2 linked regions of the Homo sapiens genome follow. The protein of the gene in region 1 interacts with the protein of each later gene in a biochemical or structural test. Each region holds a gene or a part of one and is shown on either strand. Other genes may lie near its edges.

What was found.
Region 2: the proteins of CORO1C (region 1) and TIMP4 form a complex in vitro, tested with the Homo sapiens proteins (one study listed by BioGRID).

What each region holds. Positions count from the first base shown.
Region 1 is NC_000012.12:108,651,224-108,658,521, forward strand, and holds part of CORO1C (coronin-1C), read right to left. Parts: intron 6,201-7,298; coding exon 6,081-6,200; intron 3,188-6,080; coding exon 3,083-3,187; intron 1,195-3,082; coding exon 1,049-1,194; intron 1-1,048. UniProt on the Homo sapiens protein: Plays a role in directed cell migration by regulating the activation and subcellular location of RAC1. Increases the presence of activated RAC1 at the leading edge of migrating cells.
Region 2 is NC_000003.12:12,152,329-12,155,971, forward strand, and holds the end of TIMP4 (metalloproteinase inhibitor 4 precursor), read right to left. Parts: intron 2,124-3,643; coding exon 1,999-2,123; intron 1,385-1,998; coding exon 1,187-1,384; 3' UTR 740-1,186; downstream 1-739. UniProt on the Homo sapiens protein: Complexes with metalloproteinases (such as collagenases) and irreversibly inactivates them by binding to their catalytic zinc cofactor. Known to act on MMP-1, MMP-2, MMP-3, MMP-7 and MMP-9.

The sequences.
Region 1 (7,298 bases):
AGCAAGCGTTTTAAAAGTCCACATAAACACAGTGTTACACAAATGTTTGGTACGACCTTATATGTGATGATGTAGTGCTAATTATTCTGTTGTTTGAAATGGCCAGTGGTCACTGAGTCTCAGAGGATATATTTGTTGACTAGCATGAGAAAAAAGCCTGTCCCTTAGGAAGCCTGCTAGCATTTAGAATATGAATTTTCTAAAAATCAGAAGTAGTACAGAGAGGTAGAAATTATATCATAGCTGAACTTCCTAAATCAAGCTAACCTACCGCCCCATTATAGGACCTTTGGTTTCTCTATTTTAGGACCAGTGGGGCCCCAAATACAGTTTTGACTCTGGTTCTTCCACTCATAGGGTAGGAAAACCACCCACTTTTCCATCCCCGAGCCAGGCTCTCCCTACTTGCCCACCAGGGAACGCTGACCATGGCCTCAGCTTGAAGATTAAAGATGCATGTTTCACTATTTCAGTAGGTGTGCAATACACCCCAGCTATGCTGCTTCATTGTTGCACTTCAGTTATATGGGCAGGAAATGAGGTATTAATTCCACAGTACACACAAGGATAGAAAGACTTGGGCTTCATAGAATTTCTTGTAGCTGTATTGCTCTGGTATCACCAGGCATTCAGGTGATGATAAAAAGTGAGATGTGCCGGGTGTGGTGGTGGGCGCCTGTAATCCCAGCTACTTGGAAGGCTAAGGCAGGAGAATTGCTTGAACCAGGGAGGCGGAGGTTGCAGTGAGCTGAGATCACACCACTGCACTCCTGCCTGGGCAACAGAGCCAGACTCCGTCTCAAAAAAAAAAAAGTGAGATTTTTTTCTTTTCTTTTTTTTTTTTTTTTGAGATTTTTTTCTAATGAAGAAACTCAGTTTTAGTGATATCCTTAGAAAGTGCCATCTCATGGCAATGTGTACAATTCTACTACTTTCTTGCTCAGAATGGTCAGATATTTTTGAGATCTGAAGTATATGCTAGTCCAAGTACAAATAATTGTCACACAGTTACACCAACCTAGAATACTTGACAATCTCGATTCTTTACCTGGCAATCTCACATTTGTTAACATCAAGTCCCCTCTTGGGCATGTAACCCATCCCTCTCTGAGGCTCCTTGCTGCTGAATGTGTTGAGGTAGTGGACGTACGGGGATTCATCCGTGATCTCAAAATAGCGAATACTGCTGTCACCCTGTAAGAAACCAGAGACAAGTCTGTGTCTGATTGTTAACTGAAACATCTGGATTATGGGGGTGTCTCTCTCCTCTACAAACCCAGCAGTAGTTGGGACCCCGCTTCAGTAGCTGACCTTTTCTTCCTCATAAAGAGGCTTGCCTAAAGCATATAAAAGTTTCTTTTCCTCACAAAGTAACCCCTTACTTATCAAATGCTAGCATGCCTTTTAAGTGGTCTCCTCAGCCTCCTGGCTCCTGGCTCTAATTTTACTCCCCTGAGCCTAGGCACCAGGCCAGGGTTAGGGCAAAAATGTTAATGCCTCTGCCAAACAGCTACATTGCAATTCAACTGTGAAAAACAAACAAACAAACAAAGACTAAGAGGACTGCTGAGAATGCAATTATTGATTTAAGTATTCATTTACTGGCATAACGCAATGCTGTTATGCCAGTATGATGATAAAAAGTGAGATTTTTCTAATGAAGAAACTCAGTTTTAGTGAGTATCCTCAGAAAGTGCCATCTCATGGCAATGTGTACAATTCTACTACTTTCTTGCTTAGAATAGTCAGATATCTTTGAGTACTGAAGCATATGTTAGTCTAAGTACAAATAATTGTCACACAGTTACACCAACCTGAACAATGACGGCAATCTTGTCTGGCAGAGAGGAGATATACATATATGTAAGAAAGAAGAAGGCAAAAATAGCTAGGTGGTATCATGCCTCAACAGTGCTCCCAGTTCTCATGATTTCCATTTGTCTCAATGACTGAGATATCTAAAGCAATGGAAAAGAAGCTAAACCCTTACTAGTCATTTCTGCATGCCCAAAAGAATTTTCCATCTCATGTTACTAATATCTGAGTAACTGCTCATTTTGTTTGTTTTAATTCAGTCAAGGGCAACAACAGCAAGGTAAATGCACTTAACACCTGTTAACATCTGCAGTAAAATGGCTTTCAAGGAAACAGACAAGATCTCCATTTCTAAAACAATGACCTATAAAAATGTAAAGCAGGTCTGCAGCATGCTCAATCAGCTATGAAAAGCAAACACCAGCTTTACCACCCAGTGAAGGGCTATCTAACAGGTCTAGGGACTACCTCAACAGCTCCACTGTTATTAATTCATTTATTTCAACTACAAAAAGTTCTAAGGGAAATTGAGCCTACAAGAAAAAAAAGGGAACTATAAGGTTCCCACTTACAAAAATGAAATAATAAAGCTACCCACAGTCTAGGTATGCTGAGCTCATAAGGCAGGAGGAAGGTTTTTGGAGTTCAGTGTGGAGTCTCCCTATAACTGTTATCACCCCTGAGCTTTAGTCAGGCCTCATATCTTCAAGCCCAGAGCCCTAGCACTGAACCCCAGGAACAAGAACCCTCTGGAGAGTCTCTGAGGCCCTCAAAAGTTTGCATCCACAAAGCACCATTCTCCTTCCAAGTCCATGGTGTGTGGTACTAAGTATACACATGCTCATCTAGGGTTATCCAACAAATTTCAGCATTAGATGTGGCCAACTGGTTGCCCATCCCTGACATAAGTACAGATAAATCTAAAATCACCAATCAGGTAGCACTGCTAGGTGAAGATGAAACACCAGTGTATCTTCTTTTTTTCACAAGAGCGCCCTGATTGGAGCATTTTCCCCAATACCCCAGCCCAACCTCTGCTTCAGTCAAAAGTATGCAACATGGCGTGTTATCACTGCACAACTGGCAAGCTGCACACAGTCCAGTCTCAAGACCTAAAAATACCAAATTATCTGTCCTTGGCTTATAACATACACACACAAATTAGAAAAATTAAACAGATACAACACATTGCCCGTCCTCTAAATCTCTGAAGGATAAATGTTTCCACTTACAGGATTTAACACCAAACATCAAAATTACTGTTTACCTTTCCACATAAGTAAATGATGCTGGTGTCAGGGTCATAGAAAGGCAGCAACACCCCATTGCTAGTGTCCATCTCATGAAGAGCAATTGGTTCCTGCATATTTTTCTGGGGGGAAGATAATAATAATACATATATGTGTATGTATACATTTTTTTAAAAATAAATTTTTATAACCTTATTATATATTCTTCTATCCCAATTAAGCGAGCCATTTTCCTAGAATAACAGAAGTTTGAACTATGCACATACAATACTCATACATGGAAACAGCAACAGGGATGCTAAATGAGATCCAACTCACAAAATTTCACTGATTTGACAACATAATGCGCGCATACATCAGCGTGATTTCATGACAATGATGAGAAAGCCCTTCTCCTTTGTTACTGTTTTCTTTTTCTTTTTTTTTTTTTTAAAGACTGAGTCTCCCTCTGTCGCCCAGGCTGGAGTGCAGTAGTGCTATCTCGGCTCACTGCAATCTCCGCCTCCCAAGTTCAAGCGATTTTCCTGCCTCAGCCTGGCAAGAGCTGGGATTATAGATAGGCACATGCCACCACCCGTGGCTAATTTTTGTATTTTTAGTAGACACAGAGTTTCACCATGTTGGCCAGGCTGGTCTCCAACTCCCAGCCTCAAGTGATCCAGCCACCTCAGCCTCCCAAAGTGCTGGGATTACAGGAATGGCCACTGCGCCTACCCTATTTTATTTTTTTAAAGTACTTCTTTAATTATAAAATATGTGTGCTTTTAAAAAGTTGAAAGATATAAAAAAGAACATAAAAATCATTCCATCAAAATCCTACAGCCCAGTGGGTGACAGAAGCTATTATCATTTTGATCTATTTCCTTCCGACACATGTACACAGAGATTGAGATGATAGAATGTATGTTGTATTTTTCCCCACTTAAGCTAATTATGAACATTTTCCCAAGCATGACTATTTTGATTTAGACAACTGATCATATTATTTATGAAATATGAACTTATTTTCCAAATCCAAAACACTAGATTCTTCATTCTTTTTAAAAAATATAGTCCCCTCCCTCTCCCCTTCCCCCTCCCCCTCCCCCTCTCCCTCTCCCCACGGTCTCCCTCTCCCTCTCTTTCCACGCTCTCCCTCTGATGCCGAGCCGAAGCTGGACGCTGCCATCTCGACTCACTGCAACCTCCCTGCCTGATTCTCCTGCCTCAGCCTGCTGAGTGCCTGCGATTGCAAGCGCGCACCGCCACGCCTGACTGGTTTTCGTATTTTTTTGGTGGAGACGGGGTTTCGCTGTGTTGGCGGGGCTGGTCTCCAGCTCCTGACCACGAGTAATCCGCCAGCCTCGGCCTCCCGAGGTGCCGGGATTGCAAACGGAGTCTCGTTCACTCAGTGCTCAATGTTGCCCGGGCTGGAGTGCAGTGGTGTGATCTCGGCTAGCTACAACCTCCACCTCCCAGCCGCCTGCCTTGGCCTCCCAAAGTGCCCAGATTGCAGCCTCTGCCCGGCCACCACCCTGTCTGGGAGGTGAGGGGCATCTCTGCCTGGCCGCCCATCGTCTGGGATGTGAGGAGCCCCTCTGCCCGGCTGCCCAGTCTGGGAAGTGAGGAGCGCCTCTTCCCGGCCGCCATCCCGTCTAGGAAGTGAGGAGCGTCTCTGCCCGGCCGCCCATCGTCTGAGATGTGGGGAGCGCCTCTGCTCCGCCGCCCCGTCTGGGATGTGAGGAGCGCCTCTGCCCGGCCGGGACCCCGTCTGGGAGGTTAGGAGCGTCTCTGCCTGGCCGACCCGTCTGAGAAGTGAGGAGCCCCTCTGCCCGGCAGCCGCCCCGTCTGAGAAGTGAGGAGCCCCTCCACCCGGCAGCCGCCCCGTCTGAGAAGTGAGGAGCCCCTCCGCCCGGCAGCCGCCCCGTCTGAGAAGTGAGGAGCCCCTCCGCCCGGCAGCCACCCCGTCTGGGAAGTGAGGAGCGTCTCTGCCCGGCAGCCACCCCGTCCGGGAGGGAGGTGGGGGCTCAGCCCCCGCCCGGCCAGCCGCCCCGTCCGGGAGGGAGGTGGGGGGTCAGCCCCCACCCGGCCAGCCGCCCCGTCCGGGAGGGAGGTGGGGGGGCAGCCCCCGCCCGGCCAGCAGCCCCATCCGGGAGGGAGGTGGGGGGTCAGCCTCCACCCGGCCACCACCCCATCCGGGAGGTGGGGGGCGCCTCTGCCCTGCCGCCCCTTCTGGGAATTGAGGAGCCCCTCTGCCCGGCCACCATCCTGTCTGGGAGGTGTACCCAACAGCTCATTGAGAACGGGCCATGATGACGATGGCGGTTTTGTGGAATAGAAAAGGGGAAAAGGTGGGGAAAGGATAGAGAAATCAGATTGTTGCTGTGTCTGTGTAGAAGGAAGTAGACATGGGAGACTTCATTTTGCTGTGTACTAAGAAAAATTCTTCTGCCTTGGGATGTTGTTGATCTATGACCTTACCCCCAACCCTGTGCTCTCTGAAACATGTGCTGTGTCCACTCAGGGTTAAATGGATTAAGGGCGGTGCAAGATGTGCTTTGTTGAACAGATGCTTGAAGGCAGCATGCTCGTTAAGAGTCATCACCGCTCCCTAATCTCAAGTACCCAGGGACACAAACACTGCGGAAGGCCGCAGGGTCCTCTCCCTAGGAAAACCAGAGACCTTTGTTCACTTGTTTAACTGCTGACCTTCCCTCCACTATTGTCCTATGACCCTGCCAAATCCCCCTCTGCAAGAAACACCCAAAAATGACCAATAAAATTAAAATTAAAAAAAATTAAAAAAATAAAAAATATATAGTCAACAGCCTCTTCAGGAGTATCAAAAGTATGTCTTTGAAATACATTTACCAGTAAGTCTCCAACGAGGATAAGAACTTCACATCCAATCTAAGACAATCAGGCGTTTAGAAAACTACACTAAGAATCCCATAATCTACTTACTCACTGGAAGACCTGCTCAGAACAGAGAGAAAGCTCAAGTGAAAGCAAGTGGAAAGCCTGGGGAGGGCGTACCGGATTCCAGAGAGCCAGCTGCCGCTCGCTCATGCGGCTGAACCCAGTGGTGAAGACATTGCCATCGGCCAGGAAGATGGCTCTCATGGGTCTTGCTCCTTCATGTGCTTTCTCCTTCTCCTGGAGAGCAAAAAGGCACATGCCACACATTAAACTGCAAGAAGACAAGGTGAGTGGAGAAACTCGGGCACAGATCCAACCTCACCAACTGCCATTCATGTTCACCTGGGTGTGGGAGGGAGGTCAGTGTTAACCATCCCCCTTCCCCAGATGAGGAAACAAAGAGATACTATGTGATCTGGTCAAGGTCCCTCTGTGAGGCTGCAAGAATGCCAGGATTTAACTCAGAAGACTCGCTCTCTCCACCATATCCTGCTGCCAACCCAAGTCTATGCACTGTGAAAATAAAACACATGAAAGGACTCTGACAAATGTTTGTTTCTCAAGAGGATAATAACATAAGGAGATTAGGCATGCCCTACCATTTCTACCAATATCATAGGGCAGAAAGAAGCCTTGTCTAGTTAACGCTTTCCTTGACCTCAGTAGTTTAATGAATGCACTAGGACAACCCTTAGAAGATGTCGGGTGGAGAAAACACTTAACACAGGGCTGGGCAAGTCCCCAGGGCTCAGTAAGCACCAGCTACTATCATTGCCCAACTCTTGAAAAGAGATGCAGCCAAAGAACAACCACATCTCAGGAAGGGCCTCAGAGTGTGGCAAATGAGGACTTCTCAGACTTACTATGTGTAGTTTCAACACCGACTGAAGACCCAAATGTCCATCTTTTGTCAAGGTATGTGATTTTGTTGAGGTCCAGTTTGGGTGGCAGAAACTAAGACACTGAGCTGATGAGAGAACTTGTTGCTTTTCGCCCTGCGCATTTATTTATTTATTTATTTATTTATTTTTGTATTTTTAGTAGAGACAGAGTTTCACCATGTTGGCCAGGCTGGTCTCAAACTCCTGACCTCAAATGATCCACCCACCTCGGCCTCCCAAAGTGCTGGGATTACAAGTGTGAGCCACCATGCCCGGCCACCTGTTGCATCTTTAACAGCTGTGTTTGGAAAAGGGTGAGGAATTGATTCATCAATATTCAATACTAAGCTGCAAAATCAGGAATGCAGCCAATTGGTTTAATTGATCAAGACTTATAAACTCTTAAGGACTCTAGTGAACTGATACAAACTATTTCTTTGTGAAAAAAGGCTAC
Region 2 (3,643 bases), on another chromosome or scaffold:
ATCCTAGAGGCCAATATCAGGACTTTTCCTTTCAGGGCAAGCCAGGAAGCCTTGCAGAGGCTGAGGAGCCCTGAGGGTCCTTTGGTTGGGGAATCTCAGGGAGCCCAAGGCACAATGGTGAGAGTACTCAGCTGAAGGGTACAGGGGGCTCTCTGGGGATCAAAACTGGCTTTTTCCTGCTGTAGCATCTAGCAGGGCTGGCTGCTGGAAAAAAACTGCCTTAATTGCCAGGTATATTCCCTACCTACCGTGCTTTTCCCTCAAGGGCCTTTGTGTTATTTCTCTCCGGTGCTCTATCCTGAAATTTGCCCTCAAGAGAGGACCACCTCTCTGTGGTGTAAAAAGCCAACAAAGGGGGATTTCAGCTCTGTAAGAAAAAGGCTTTGTGGCTTTTAAAAAGTTCTGAAATAGGAATGAAGATGTTAGTAATTTAAAAGAGACAGAAGAGAAGCCTTATGGACATCAGTTGAGGGCATTAAGGATAGTTAACTTGGAGAGGTAGTACCTATTCTGAGACAGTAAGTGCATTCTTATTCAAAGAGGTGTGCTAACCAGGTGGGACCCTCTGCCAGAAATGGTATAGAGGGGATAACAGCATTGGAAGGCAGGTTAGTCCATTCTGGCTCTCACATTGAGTGATTCTGTGTCTCCCAAATGACTCCCCCAAACAGATGAAAGTGTATCAGAGGATTAGGATGAGTTGAGACAGGGGAAGTAGAGGATACACAGCCACAGTATGTTCTTGTTTTCATTCCTGCCAGTCAGCCTGTTTATGATGCTGTCAAACCACCTTCTGATACTGTACATCGCAAGGATATACCATCTCATGTGTATGACATTCGCCATTTCTCCCCTACCAGATCGATTAAGACAAAGGAAAACACATATTCCTGGGGAGGAAAGGGAATAGTCCTGGCTTTAGAAAACAGACTAAGCCAGAAGAAACACTTGCAGTAACAGCTACAAGGCTAGACTAATGGGGTTTGGGAGGCAGGGGCAACAGGCTGAGGGCAGGGCAGAAAAGTCATGGCCCCTTCCCTGCCTTGACAGTGGCCAGACTGTCCACTTGGCACTTCTTATTAGCTGGCAGCAAGAGGTCAGGTGGTAATGGCCAAAGCTCTGCAGGGAAGGAGAACTGGCTTGATCTTCAGGACTCTTGAAGGGATGTGATGGTCACTGGTCCCTACTAGGGCTGAACGATGTCAACAAACTCCTTCCTGAGAGGCAGGTGGCCCCGGTACCAGCTGCAGGTGCCGTCAACATGCTTCATACAGACATAATGCTGAGCCTGGTAACCATAGAGCTTTCGTTCCAACAGCCAGTCTGTCCAGAGGCACTCGTTAGGGGCCGAGATGGTACAGGGTACTGTGTAGCAGGTGGTGATCTAGAGTCATGGCCACACAACATTAAAGTGAGTAGGGTGTCCTTCTTTTTCCATTGCTGCCTTTCAGATTCCTACGTACCTTTCCAGCCCATCTCAAATGCCCCCTATCTTATCAAGCCTTTCCCAGTCCCCAGTCTTCTCCTGGATTCTCCTTCCCCAAGGTTCCCCATATTCAATATTGCCACTTAGTGGCATCTCTGGAGTCAGACAGCTCTGAGGGTCCTTACTCTACCACTGACCTTGAGCACTTCACTTGCCAGAGCTTTCATTTCTTCACCTTAAAATGGAAATCTTAATTCTTCATAAATATGTTTTGGAGACTAAATTAAACATTTACAGTAAATTTACTATTACAGTGGCTGGCAAAGAATAGACTCTCTTTAAAGGGTAGCTGTGTTACAGTTATCTCAGTCTGCCTCCTGTGATGGCCACCTTCCCAGCCAAAGTGTAAGTACTTTGAGATCAGGGCCTATAGACTGTATTGCTTTCTCATCCCCAACTTCATACAGTGCAGATCTCAAGTATAGTCTAGTAAGTGAATAAATTCATGCATGAATGAAGGCTCAGAACCCTTCCCCCATCCCTAAAGACTTTGGAAATGGACATTCCCTTACTTGGCAGCCACAGTTCAGATGGTAGTGATGATTCAGACTTTCCCTCTGCACCAAGGACAGGTCCTCCCAGGGCTCGATGTAGTTGCACAGATGGATGAAGACTTTTCCATCACTGAGGACCTGACCTTCAAGGGGAGATGGAGGAGAGTCAAGCATCAGGATTCTTCTCCTGGAGCCCCAGGGGCCCAGGTCCTTGAAAAGCCCAGAATTGCAGCCTCCCCAATGACTTTGGTGGCAGTGGTGGCATGGGGCTCAGTGAAGGGACCAATAAATAAAACTACTATAATCTTTCTAGCAAAAAGATAAGCAGATTATGTTTGTACGAGGCAGAGTTGTGGGATCTGGTGAAGGCCTTTTCGTTTAGCATGGTACAGAGAGAAGAATGTGGTCTTTAAAGTCAAAGTCTGTGTGGGATCCCCCTTTCTTTTCTGTCATTTACTAGCTGAATGATCTTAAGGAAGTTGTATAACCTCTCAGCTGGAAGATGAAAATTATAAAGTTGTCAGATTAAATGAGAGATTGTCTATAAAGTTCCCAGCACAGTTGTGGTCCCACAGAAGATATTCAATAAATAATAGGTCCCTTCCCCTTTCCAGCCCTTCCCAGTATCTGCACAGGCCAGGCTCCTGCTCTAGATTGGTGAGTCTTTTACCTTCCCCATAGGAAATTTCCCCCTTTTTACCTATGAAGCTCCTTTTCACCTTTCAGACGAGATCGGGCGCGTTCAGGGTGGTATGGCCGTAGATTCCTTTTCACCTTTCAAAGACCCTTTCAGTGCCACCTCAAAGCCATCTCTGACCACCTAGCTAGCCCATGCCTCTTTTAGAACCTCAGTCGCTCAATCATTTACTCACTGAGTGACTGCTGTGATCTAGTACCAGGAATACAGATATAAAAATGACAGGATCTCTGCTCCCAAGGAGCTTAGAAATGAGTAGGGTAGATGGATAAGTAGGGAAAAATTACACTATTGTGTGGTTCTATACAAAGTGCAGTATAAGAACAAAGGAACATACAATTATTTCCATCTATGGAAGGAGTGTGGGGCAAAGAAGGTGTCTCAGAGAAGACTGTGCTTGCATTGGGCCTTGAAGGGATGAGTGGGAGTCTGCCTACCAAACAGGTTGGGGGAAGGGCTTCCTGTCATTGCCACTATCCTGTGCAGAGGCAGGGAGACACAGCCTGGCAGCATACCTTCTGCAACCACAGGTAGCTGAGTTCAGTTCTTGGGAAAGTGAGGGGCTGGGAACTGATATTGACAAAGCTAGAGAGGGCAGCAGTGTTCTGGTCACAAAGAGCTTTCAACACCAGGCAAAGGAGCTTGTGCCTTCTCCTGTAGGACCTGGGCACCATTGATAACTTTTCTTAGACTATTTTTTGTCATTTCTCCCCACCCTCAGTTAGACTTGACCTCCCTGAAGGCAGGGAACATGTTTCCTCATTTCCCCTGCTGTACCTCCATGCCTAGCAGCGGGCTAGACACACAGAGGGCAGGTGCTTAGGAAGGAGGTGCGATAATAGAGTTTGAAAGGGCCTGGTCTGCTAGACCTGGGAACTGCAGGGCTCAGTGGTGTGTCCTGCCTCTGCCTCTTCCATCCAGGAGCTCCTCAGTTCTGTACAATTCCACATCCTCAGAGCTAGGAAG